Linked DNA regions of Homo sapiens: regions 1 and 3 are each linked to region 2. The links come from fine-mapping of genetic effects on gene expression. A gene starts in region 2. Each other region holds a variant in brackets. All regions are shown on one strand. Distances are between the middles of the regions.

Evidence for each region. PIP is the estimated chance that this variant, and not a neighbour inherited with it, causes the effect. A credible set is the group of variants that fine-mapping cannot tell apart.
Region 1: its variant is the best candidate, but not a certain one, in a credible set for the expression of SRI in pancreas (GTEx, PIP 0.79).
Region 3: its variant is the best candidate, but not a certain one, in a credible set for the expression of SRI in whole blood (INTERVAL, PIP 0.86).

What each region holds. Positions count from the first base shown.
Region 1 is chr7:88,691,579-88,695,826 of GRCh38, reverse strand. All of the region lies in intron 1 of LOC107986816 (a long non-coding RNA gene), which reads right to left. Among named protein-coding and RNA genes, the nearest start is that of ZNF804B, 66 kb to the left of the region's middle. The variant T/C (reference allele first, on the strand shown) is at 2,561.
Region 2 is chr7:88,218,103-88,222,350 of GRCh38, reverse strand. SRI (sorcin) reads left to right here and starts at 2,313. Exons shown (of 8, transcript NM_003130.4): 1 at 2,313-2,375; 2 at 3,409-3,492. The coding sequence starts at 2,325. It overlaps SRI-AS1 (SRI antisense RNA 1), which reads right to left. Exons shown (of 3, transcript NR_120517.1): 2 at 3,127-3,602. RefSeq lists silencers at 2,091-2,590, 3,238-3,327.
Region 3 is chr7:88,375,682-88,379,929 of GRCh38, reverse strand. No RefSeq gene overlaps it. Among named protein-coding and RNA genes, the nearest start is that of STEAP4, 71 kb to the right of the region's middle. The variant G/A (reference allele first, on the strand shown) is at 2,073.

The sequences.
Region 1 (4,248 bases), 470 kb before region 2:
GTGAAAGCTGATAAATCCATTGCTGTTTCTGTTATCATCTCTCCTCTACCAGTGAAACTTAACCACTTGCCTGGAAAGTTTTCATTAGAACTCATCATGTTGCCTATAGGTCTAGGTGTGAGGGACCAATGCAACAATGTTACTGTTGATGTGGTTGTGAGCATCAATATAGAATGCTTTTCTCTACCCAAATGCCTTGTGTTTCTGCAGTATTCAGATAGACATATAAGTAGGTACAGACATACATGAATGAGATGGGTAACATCTCAGAAACCTCAAGCTTCATGATAAAACAGAGTCATATCATGAAGAATTTTAATTGTCAAGTGTCTAGTTTTCATTTTAAAATGTTTCCTTTTGAGCAGTGTCAATACCTTCCAAAAGCTTCTCTGGATTTCTCAGTGCTCCTCTAAAAAGGAAAGTGGTACATTATCCCCACAGACATTACAACTGCTTCCAGAGAAACAGCTCAGTAAAATAACAACTCTATAAAATGTTGCTGCAGCTCACAACAGAGAAAGTAGAAGGTTAGGAAAATCACAACAAGGGTTGAAACCTGGGACAGGTTGGTTCAACAAAACTCAATTCTATGAGATTAACCTCCATTTGGGAATTGGAGCATACTAAAGAAATATACAGTCATGTGTCACTTAACAACATGTATAGGTTCTGAGAAATGTATCCTTAGGCAATTTCATTATTACACAGGTTTCATAGAGTGTACTTCCCAAAACCTACATGGTATAGCCTACTACACGCCTTGGATATATGCTATAGCCTATTGCCCCTAGGCTACAAACCTGTACAGCATATTCTAGTGAATACTGTAGGCAATTAAAACACAATGGTAAGTATCTGTGTGTCTAAACATATCTAAACATGGAGAATGTATAGTAAAAATATAATATAATCTTATGGGACCACTGTCAGATACGCAGTTTGTCATTGATTAAAACGTTGCTATATGGTGCATGACTGTATATATCAAGACTGCTGCCTTCAAAGAACTTTTCTGGTAAAACAAGACAAATACATATTTTAACTAGATTAGTGCTGAGATTTTTAGTTCAGATAATAGTTTTTAGAGATGGTTAGGAAGGAAAAATTCAATGTGGTTAGGATACTATATTTCTGAAGGAAAGATGAATGTTCACAAAGACTCTTTTCCTTTCTCACTTCGTAATTAGTAATTTTGTTATTTTGCAATCTTCCAAATGGAACTGATAATTCTATACCTAGTTACCCACCACCCTCAACACTCTCTCAAAGTCTCTAATGTCAAAGATCACAAGAATAGGAAAGGCTGGGTTAACCAGATTTAAAAATCATTTAAAAGAGCATTCAGAATTTTCTTGCTTTTTCTCATATCATGTTCTTGTACTACTTGGCTTTGGATTAAGATAAGCTTGAATTTGTCTTGGAAAGCTTACCTAACCTCTTTGAGACACAATGTTCTCTTCCATGAAATAATAAGATGAAATTAGATGGCAGGTTTAAAATGTCCATCACAACATCTGACTCTTAGATACTCAATATTGTTCTCTGCCCTATTCAAGCCACTTGTCCCATATACTCTGGTTATAGAAGTGTCTTTGAAGTAAAACCAGAGATGTGGGACAATATAGATGTCATTGTATTGGGCAGAGGTGGATAGTTAGCAGTATGTAAGGACATAAAATTGCTTGGGATTTTCAACTTCAGACACAGACATAGGAAAAAAATATTGAGAGGATTCCCTAAGGTATGGCAAGCTACCAAGTCAGGGAACACATAAATTGTTCCTCCTCAATGAAGTAATACCAATGCTAAATATACAAGTGGTGATAGACAGGGATATAATTGAATTTTTAAAATATATAAACAAACAGAAATGTATTCAGTTATAGGAAAAGTATCACCACCTCATAGGCTAATCAAAAATGTTTCCAGGTTAAGGGACAAAAAAATTTATAATAATTCCAAGGTCTCTTAGATATATTTTTGAAAAATGCAATAACATAATTGGCTCTAATTTTCAATAAACTGCATTTTTTTTTCCAGGGGGAAAGAACAAAGATTAGAACTTGACCAGATACTAAAAAGTGAAAAATGCCCCTAGTTGAACACAGAATTGAACCTGAAAGCGCTCTGGAAACTCAGGGAAGTCTGATTCACAATCAAATGGTTTGCAGATTAATATCTGCAAATTAATAAAGATAATGCTCCTTGTGTCTTTGTATTTTCGGGGTGTGGGATTACTGCCATCATTTGATGGAGAAGAAGTTTTAACTACTAAGTCAGCATGTTTCCATGGTGCTACCTGGTTGCAAATCTGGGATGACATAAGGCACCAGCTTTCTTTACAAACCTTCAAGCTTGGAGGAGGTACAAATCAAATTTGGTCTGAATATTGTAGTTTTGTTTTTCAAGAAGTACTATTTCTGTTTAAGAGTTTTTGTTTGTTTTATAGAGATCTCCTTGGTTAATCCTTTAGCCACACTGATTTGATGCCAAGTTATTGTTTTCCAAATAGTAAATTTTTAAACTTCTTATCTGATTAGTTTTACCTGTTGAGGACAGG[T/C]GTTTTATGCCTCATAATTTTCCCCTCCATACTCATTTATACTTGAATAATTTTCAAGATTCTTGGTGAATTTCCCTTTGAAGGTTTCAAGTCCCTTTAATCCCCAGAATAAATTTATTAATTTATTAATGTTTCCCAAATAAAGAAAAAACCCTATTGGGAATATAGTGTTAATTATTTTTCTCAAGTACATCCACCAATATTGGTGCATACATTTCTCAGGAAATTAAATTTTCCATTAGTTCAATATGCTTGGAATGTTTGAATTAAAAAGAATTTTCCAAAAATGGTCCCAGGCTTCTTTTAAATGATGTTATTAAAAATATAAAGTTCATATTCTAATAGATTACCCAAGAAGGTTACTGCATACAAATTTACCTAAGTTCTTGCTTGTTATTATCTATTTTCCTGTAGTCTTGCTTGGTTCTGGAGGGACAGTTTGGCTGAATATCAAATACTTAATTTACACTAGTTTTTCTCATTAAGCATTTTTTTATACTACTGCTTTAAAATTGGGTTATCAAAAGACCAATGCCAGTCCAATATATCTGTCATTGCAAGTTACATGTTTGTTTATTTAGGCCATGAGGTCATGAGAATTTTTCTTTTAACTCTGAAACCTAATGGTTATTAGAATATGTCTTAAAGTTTATCAGTCTGGGTTAATGATAAACTAAATTTTCTCATAAACTGTATTTTCCCAAGTACCCAGTGGGGTCTTCCCATTTTTAGGTTCAAACTTTTTATTAAATGTCTGGGAAGTTTTCTGTGATTATAATTTCAAACATTATTTTCCAATGTTTTTGTTAATAGTTATTTTCTAATGTCTAATGTCCTAAAGTTTTGCTTTTCACTCTTTGTTTTGTTCAGGGATTGCAATAATACACATATTACTCCTTCTCTTTCTATCTTTGTATCATATTCACTTCTTCACTCATTTTTATTCTCTTAATTATTTTTCTGTTTTTCTTCAATGCTCCTTATTTAATTTTTTAAAATCAATTCTCTCATGGGCGTCTTAAAATCCATTCTTCATTTCTATGTTAATTTTGTCTTTTAATTCCATTTCTTTTTTGAATTCAATCAACTTTCTTTTAATTTTTACTGGTTTTTTCCATGTCTAGCCTCAGATTTTGAATTTCTGATTTAGATTATTTTTTCAAATCTTCATTTACTTGTGAGACTATCTCATTCCATTTATAGTTTTGACTTGGAGTTTTCTTCTGCTTCATGGTTATTAGTCTGAGGGAAAATTTCCTCAGTTAATATGTGTTGAATTTTGTTTTCAGATTTCTTTCAAAAGCTCATTTTGAATCTGTTAATCTTCTCTTGTCTATTTTTTTATGTGTGGTATTACAGTGTTTTACAAGATTTTTAATTTAATGATACTCCTGTCTCACAGTATTTCAAAACTCGAAAACTTCAATGGTTTTGTTTGTTTGCTTTTATGATAGGCAATGGGATTGTGAATTATCTAGTTTTGTGTTCCCCTTTTGTCTTGCGGGATTCAAAAATGTCCTCTTTCATTTAATTCACTATCCCATTGGCCAGAGGTGCCTTCTTTATGGTTTCTTTCTCCTCCAAAGAAGCTTTGTGTTTTAAATTCTGCTTCTTTAAGTTGTGAAACTCTTAAATATCTTTTCTGTGGCTCATGCTCTGTCTTACCTGGACATTATTTTAGTATTTTT
Region 2 (4,248 bases):
ACAGGTGCTGGAGAGGATGTGGAGAAATAGGAACACTTTTACACTGTTGGTGGGACTGTAAACTAGTTCAACCATTGTGGAAGTCAGTGTGGCGATTCCTCAGGGATCTAGAACTAGAATTACCATTTGACCCGCCATCCCATTACTGGGTATATACCCAAAGGACTATAAATCATGCTGCTATAAAGACACATGCACACGTATGTTTATTGCGGCATTATTCACAATAGCAAAGACTTGGAACCAACCCAAATGTCCAACAATGATAGACTGGATTAAGAAAATGTGGCACATATACACCATGGAATACTATGCAGCCATAAAAAATGATGAGTTCATGTCCTTTGTAGGGACATGGATGAAATTGGAAATCATCATTCTCAGTAAACTATCGCAAGACCAAAAAACCAAACACCGCATATTCTCACTCATAGGTGGGAACTGAACGATGAGATCACATGGACACAGGAAGGGGAATATCACACTCTAGGGACTGTGGTGGGGTGGGGGGAGGGGAGAGGGATAGCATTGGGAGATATACCTAATGCTAGATGACGAGTTAGTGGGTGCAGCGCACCAGCATGGCACATGTATACATATGTAACCAACCTGCACAATGTTCACATGTACCCTAAAACTTAAAGTGTAATTAAAAAAAAAATTCAATTCTTTAGCAGTAAAGCAGTGGGAAGATGTCTAAGGACAACTGATATGCCAATTCGTATAGCCGTTTATCCACGAAGCTAATTCTGCAGTACTTAAAAATATTTTATATGCTTTATACTTCTTTCAAACTTGAGTCTTGAGCTTGTACTCAACATCGAGTTCGGCCCTGACATCTACTCTTTATAGTCGGTTACCTCTTTCTGAAGAAACAGGCTTCCAAAGAGAGACCAGGGGACTCATTAGATGTCTCATCTACCTTGATGATTGCTACCTTGATGATTGAAAACAGTAACCTGCTTCCTGAATCAAACACAAAACAGGCAACATGCAGTGTCTTTGCTATGCCACAACAGGGACTATTAGAATTTTTCTCACAATTCGGACTTTGGTTTTCAAAAGGGCTTGCGAGGGAAGTTACACACAAGAGAAAAACAATGAACCGAATGAGGACAATAGCCCACGAATTTAGAATGGAGGAAGCCCGTCCACCACAGCGAAAAAGCACAGTACCACATTGGCGGGTGCTCCAATATTTGTGAAATGTTGATGACCCTTTAAATGTTTCTGTGCAACCTCCACAACAAATACTGTGAATCTTGCTTATTAATGCGTTTCTCAATACGTTAAAATTCAGGAAATCATTAAGTCTAGTCCTTAACAGTGAAGGGCAAGCAATTTTCTGTCATTGAAATTACACAAAACAAAACAAAAAGCTCACGCCTGAATTGCTTCGGACTATTCAACTGGAAGATAGAAAAATATATGAAGTAAAGAAGAATAACCTACATAGAAGTTCCTATCTCTTATCTTCCTGAATACTTACCAGTACACTATTAGTTTGTTCTAAACTTTTCTTATATAAAAAGTAGCTGAATACTTTTAGGGAAATGGATTGTTTTGTCTGAATCATCCAGATAATTCAAACAATTCATTTTCCTAAGAACGATATGTGTGAGTCTGTCCTGCCCGGAAAATGCCCTCTGTCCTACTCAGGACACAAGTCACGCTCAGCTTAAACAGGCAAGGAATTGTCCCCTAGGAAGGAAATACGCCGTTGTCGTTCAGTGAACTCTGCAACCAACAGCAAGCCAAACTCTCCCTTGCACACAGTTCGTCAAGTTAATTCTTATTTTCCAAGGGCGCTTTCGTATTTCCATCTTTCAAAGACTCCTTCACCCACTGGCACCTAAGGCTTGCCCTAACGCATCCAGCCCCTGCCTCGCGATGGTGCGCTCCGCTTATAATAGCTCCGTCCTGTCCAATAAAGTTGTTTAAAATAAGAAATGTGCCAGATAATAGCCAAGTCCGAAGGAAAAAAAAAAAAAAAGAATTCCTGGGGTGGTGTATTGGTGTTGGAATGTGCCATTAGTTTTGGAGGGAGGAAAGTCCCTGGTGTGAATTGCCTCGCAGGTCGTAGGCCGCCACTGGACCTTCAGTCGTGCACTGCATTAGCGCCGTAATGGCAAAGATACGAAGAAGCGCGCAGGCAGGGGAGCCACGGCCGCGCGCACAGGCAAGAGCTGGAGACGACTGCGGAGCGCGTCCCCCACGCCCGCGTGGTGCGCTCTGGGGCGGCCCCCTAGCGGCAGGGCGGGGCGGGGCAGGGGGCGGAGAGGCCTGGCGCACAGGGCGAGGGCGGCTGCGGCGCAGTCTGCAGCATGGCGTACCCGGGGCATCCTGGCGCCGGCGGCGGGTACTACCCAGGCGGGGTAAGTGCTGACTGCGCGGGATCGCGGCCCAGGCGGCTCCGGGGCGCTAAGAGGCCACCTTGGAGATGCTGCGGCCAGCGGGGTGAGGCGCTGCTGGGCGGCTACCCGGGCTCCTTCCGCCCTCGGCTTCTCCCTGCGCTCGCGGCCTCGCCCTAGGCCCCTGGGGTTCGGCCTCTCCCCACGTTTCCCCGTCCCTTCTCCTGGATGGCCCTGCGGGGCCAAGGTGAGGGTGGATTGGGACCCTAGAAGCCCACCCTGCGGCTTCTCGGATACGCGGCGTGAAATCGTGTTAATTGGGTGTTGGCTGACCCCCACCCCACCCCACCCCCGCCTTCTTGGTTGCCTCCCAGAGCAACAACAGTCATTTTATTCTAGAATGATATACCTTCCTCCCTTTAAAAAACAAACAAACAAACAAACAAACAAACAAACAAAAAACGAGTGAGAAGGGGGACGGAAAAAAAGGGAAAACCTGCTGAAGTAAAAGACCTGTAGGAAGGCAGCCTCGCCGGGCGTCTGGGATGCGCGTTGTCTTGGGAACTGTTTCCGAGACAGGCAATGTTCCCTCGCCACCCACGAGATACAGCCCGGCCGGACACCTTACTCTTCCCTAGGCTACACCCGTCTCAGAATGTTACCAACTCCAGCCTTCCATCGTTCATAAAACGCTCTTAAAATACCATAAATGCTGTAACAACAAAAGGAGAATTTGAAGCCCTGCCATTCGTTGGCTTACCTAGTTTGCACTCACCTCAGTAACCTTCAGGTTAATAGGGATTTTAAAAGTTGCTTTACATATGTAGACATCACTTTCACAGCAACTCTTTATGGTCTAAGTCGCCAGTTTTTAAATTACGGGGTGTGAATGGAAGAGAGGGGTGGAGTGTTGGCAGAGTGTGCCCGGTGGTGGGGAGGTGAGCCTTGTGAAGGGCGGGCAGGCGGGCAGTTGTCTGGCCTTGCACAAAAGCCCTCAGTGGTGAAAGAAGAAAACTTGATTCGGCAGAATGACGTGTATGTGTTTCCTGTTTCACAGTATGGAGGGGCTCCCGGAGGGCCTGCGTTTCCCGGACAAACTCAGGATCCGCTGTATGGTTACTTTGCTGCTGTAGCTGGACAGGTTAGCTTTTCCCTTTAATATTAAAGAGCCGTTATTGTCTGCATTTGTGGTAGCTTTTGATATAGTGACACAGAAAAGCGAACTTCCTGTGGTACTGAGTCCCTTTGCTTCTGCAAAAGAAAAAAAAAGTTGTTTCTTATTTTAGTTTTTTATTTCTGAATGTTCAGAATAAATGAGGACAAAGTGTTACTCGTATTTATGTGAGTTCAGTTCGAAAGCAAACTTGTGGTTGAATTAAAGGGTCCAGGATGGTTTCAAGCGAAAAAATTCAAGATCTGGTAAATATAAACGCTTGTTTGTACAACTTAAAGACATATATTAGTAATTACATAGCTCGATTCTAATGGGCACTTTCTTTGGGTTGAACTTGATTGCTAATCATTCACCCCCTTAGGAAATATGGTAAAAACCCACCAGCTTCTAAATAAGGAAGTTACTGTTCCCTTCTTAGTATCAGAAAGTTAATCTTGTGAACAGTGTAGTTTCTCTTTGATGCAGATGCTGTTACTAGGTCAGCCCCTCCATGTCCTTATTAGGTGTTCTGGCCTGTTGACCCAGAGAAGCAATTAAGGTCAGCTCCCCAAGACCTTTCACTTGTCTGCATTCTGAGTTGTATGACAGGTGCTATCTTACATTGACAGGTGCTATCTTACATTGAGAGAGGACACTTCCCTAGTTCATGAGGTCACTGTGTGCAGTAAATATACTGTTGGTATAACCCAGACACGTCCAGAGGAGATGTTTGTTCTTATGAAT
Region 3 (4,248 bases), 160 kb before region 2:
AAACCATAAAAATTCTAGAAGATGACATCAGAAAAACTCTTCTAGATATTGGCTTAGGCAAAGACTTCATGACCAAGAACCCAAAAGCAAATGCAACAAAAACAAAGATAAATAGATGGGACTTACTTAAACTAAAAAGTTTCTGCACAGCAAAAGAAATAAATCAGCAGAGCAAACAGACAATCCATAGATTGGGAGAAAACTGTCTCAAGCTATACTTCCAAGAATAGACTAATATCCAGAATCTACAAAGAACTCAAATCAGCAAGAAAAAAAAAAAATTTCATCAGAAAGTGGGCTAAGGACATGAATAGACAATTCTCAAAAGAAGATATACAAATGGCCAACAAACATGAAAAAATGCTCAACATCAGTAATTATCAGGGAAATGCAAAGCAAAACCACAGTGCAATAAATACCACTTTACTCCTGCAAGAATGGCCATAATCAAAAAATAATAGATGTTGGCATGGATGTGGTGAAATGGGAACACTTTCATACTGTTGGTGGGAACGTAAACTAGTACAACCACTATGGAAAACAGTGTGGATATTCCTTAAAGAACTAAAAGTAGATCTACCATTTGATCCAGCAATCCCACTACTGGGTATCCACCCAGAGGAAGAGAAGTCATTATAGGATAAAGATACTTACACACACGTTTATAGCAGCACAATTCACAATTGCAAGAATACAGAACCAGCCCAAATGCCCATCAATCATCAATGACTGGACAAAGAAAATGTGGTATATATATATATTATGTAATATTACTCAGCCATAAAAAGGAATGAAATAATAGCATTTGCAGCAACCAGGATGGAATTGGAGACCATTATTCTAAGTGAAGTAACTCAGGAGTGAAAAACCAAACATCGTTATGTTCTCACTCTTAAGCTGGAGCTAAGATATGAGGATGTAAAGGCATAAGAATGATACACTGGACTTTGGGGACTCGGGAGAAAGGGTATGAGGGGGTGAGGGATAAAAGACTACACATTAGGTACAGTGTGCACTGCTCAGGTGGTGGGTCCACCAAAATCTCAGAAATCACTACTAAGGAACTTATTCATGGGCCAGGCACAGTGATTCATGCCTGTAATCCCAGCACTTTGGGAGGCCAAGGCGGGTGGATCACTTGAGGTCAGGAGTTTGAGACCAGCCTGGCCACCATGGCAACACCCCATCTCTACTAAAAATACAAAACCTAGCTGGGTGTGGTGGTACAGGCCTGTAGTCCCAGCTATTCAGGAGTCTGAGGCACGAGAATTGCTTTACCTGGGAGGCAGATCACCAACATCGCTCCACTGCACTCCAGCAGGGGCTACAGAGTGAGACTCTGCTTAAAAAAAAAAAAAAAAAAAAGAACTTATTCATGTAACCAAACACCACCTGTCCCCCATAAACCTATTTAAATTTTTAAAAAGTTAAATATAGATTTACTGAGCATGACAACGCATAATTAACTTTTCCTCTACTCTCTTTTCACATGTAAAATGTAGATTTACTGAAGCTAATGAGAACCTCACTGCCTAAATTCCCTTCTTTTTTTCCCCTCCTGCTTGCTCCTTTCCCTTTACATATTGCAGTTCCCAAAATCCCCTTTGGAAAAAGCATAGGTCACAGGTGCTCCTGTGATTTGTGTTTTTTCCCAAGCACGTCCTCTCAACCTTGGCTAAAGAAACGTCTAATCAATTAAGACCTGCCTCAGTCACTTTCCGGTTTACAGAATTTATACATTTATGAAGTTTCCTATTGAAGGAAGATAGATTTTTGACTTTATCTTGGATTAACCAATGATCAAATAACAGTAATTTCATTAAGTTCTAGGAATTTATTTTTAAAGATTGTATCAGTTTCAGTACCATCACATCAACACATCAACTGTGGGGGTGTGTGTGTGTGTCTGTGTGTCTGTGTGTCTGTGTATGTGTTTGGGCCCTGGAGAGAGAGAGATTGGGTGAGGAAATCTACAAGTTAGCAGAAAAAGAAACTCTTGAGGGAGAAAAGAAATAACTCAAATGCCATTTTGCAGGTTTCCAAAATTAAAAAAAAAAAAGAACTTCTGTTAC[G/A]GGCCAAGTTTTGTGAGTTTTGTTGTTCCTTATTTTTGTGTGGTGTTTTGCACCCCCCACCCTCCAAAGAATTTCCATATTCAATCTTTTCCCTTAGAATACAAAACAAAACCTACCAGAGGAGAGTTCCTGAGAGAGGAAGCCAAAGGGCCCATGACTGATAGGAAAGACTCCTAGGAAAGCCTTTGAAGCTCTAGGAAGGAGAGGCGCTGACTCAATCAAAGCCAGCCAGGGTAGATCTGATTTACAAGCTGAGCTGTCTCAGCTGAACCAACAATCTAAAGTTGCTTGGTGGCTATGTTAGTGCTGCAGCTGTGACATTGTTGTTAATGAATCAGGATACCTGCTTAAGTTACTGTCAGACCAAGAGGTTTTTTAAATTCAAAATATCTCTGTAAGCTCCTGAAGAAGAAGTCTATTCAATGATGATTTGATAAAGATCACTTTTGCTTTGAGGTTTTTTCTTTTTTTTGTTGTTTTTTTTTCTTAAGTAAATAAAAATGTGTTTAATGTAGCTTTGTTTCCTAAAGGACTCATTAATTACCTTATTATGCTCTATTTCTTCTAGCTATGTTTGTTGAAAAATCAGTGTTATATATTCATGGATAAGCAAAAATGCTATCTGTGCTCATGGAGATTTTTAATCATTTAAGCCAACTTTATTATGATTGCTTTAACGTCTTTAAATTCATTCTATTTCCTATTCCAAGAAGGGTATTTATTAGAATTGTCAAACTTTATTCTTCTACTATGTCTGATTACTGTCTATTTAAAACTCAAAGTAGAATTCTAAGAAACTAGAGAAAAAAAGAGAAATTCCTATTTAATAAAAGGGAAAATAATTTACCAATTATCCTATTAAAACAAAAGAGAAAAGATGAATAAATTGATGATTTTTGAAGAAATGCACACTTTACTTGCAACTAAACAATTGCTAATCAAAATAATTTTCAGGTGCCATGACATAGTTATTAAACTAGAAAAAAGGAAATAAAATTTTATAACCAATGCTGGTAAAGTTGGAGGGAATGAGAATAGTTGAGTGTTTTGTAAATTGTTCACTCTCTGGAGAGCAACCTGGCATGTGTGACCAGACCTACAAAATTAAGGGCAAAAACCTTTTTTTTATTTTTCAGTAATCACCACCATATGCCCAGCAGTGAACACGATTTCTGACATAAATTAAGAAATAAATAATAATTGATAAAAGAATAATGAATAAAATGGTTCATGCCCACTGACTTGTTAATTTCACTTTGAGGAAAATTAACAAAAATTAACCCCAAAATTAAGACTTTTCACCACTATTCATAGCAGGAAAAAAATTGGACCCATTCACATATTTGATAATAGAGGAATACTTGAGCTTGATTAAATGTTTCATGTAGCATAGCATATAAGCCATGTTTAAACAACATAATGTGTGTGAGTTAATATTAAGTATCTTGCAGGGCACAGTGGCCCATGCCTGTAATCTCAGCACCTTGGAAGCCTGAGACAGGAGGATCACTTGAGGCCAGGAGTTCTACACTAACCTGGACAACATAGCAAGACCTCATTCCTGCAAAAAATAAAACAAACAAAGTTTAACCGGGCGTGTTAGCATACACCTCTCATCCCAGCTACTCAGGATGCTGAGATGCTGAGGCGGGAGGATCACTTCAGCCCAAGAGTACAGCATAGAAACATTCATAGAAACATTCATATACAAAATAGAAAACTCCTGATCATCGAGGACAACACAGAAGGAAGAAGTGAGGCATCTGCATGACTCACATTACCCTGCAGGTTATAAAGATTTCTTACCTTTGATTACCTACCTCTGTATATAAAGCAATCTTAGAGATTTGAAAAGAAAATTTACAACTGAAAAACTAAAATTGAACTGCTTATAAGCTGTCATCCATAATCAGCTCATTATTTAATATATCTTTTAAGACAACTCAGTTTTTAGTCTGTATAAAGCAATGTCTTAGGTGCTGCAAGGAAAGCACTTATGGGGAAGTCACAATAAGCCTGCAAATACTTATTCCTTAAAGTAAACAGTGCCATATTTAAAGGGAATGCTAATGTTTTTTAAACAATCTGTATTGAATTGTAATAATGGAGCTGGAGGCCAATTTTCAATTGATTTGATGTTAAAATCCTTAATATTTAGATAGAATTTTTTATTTTT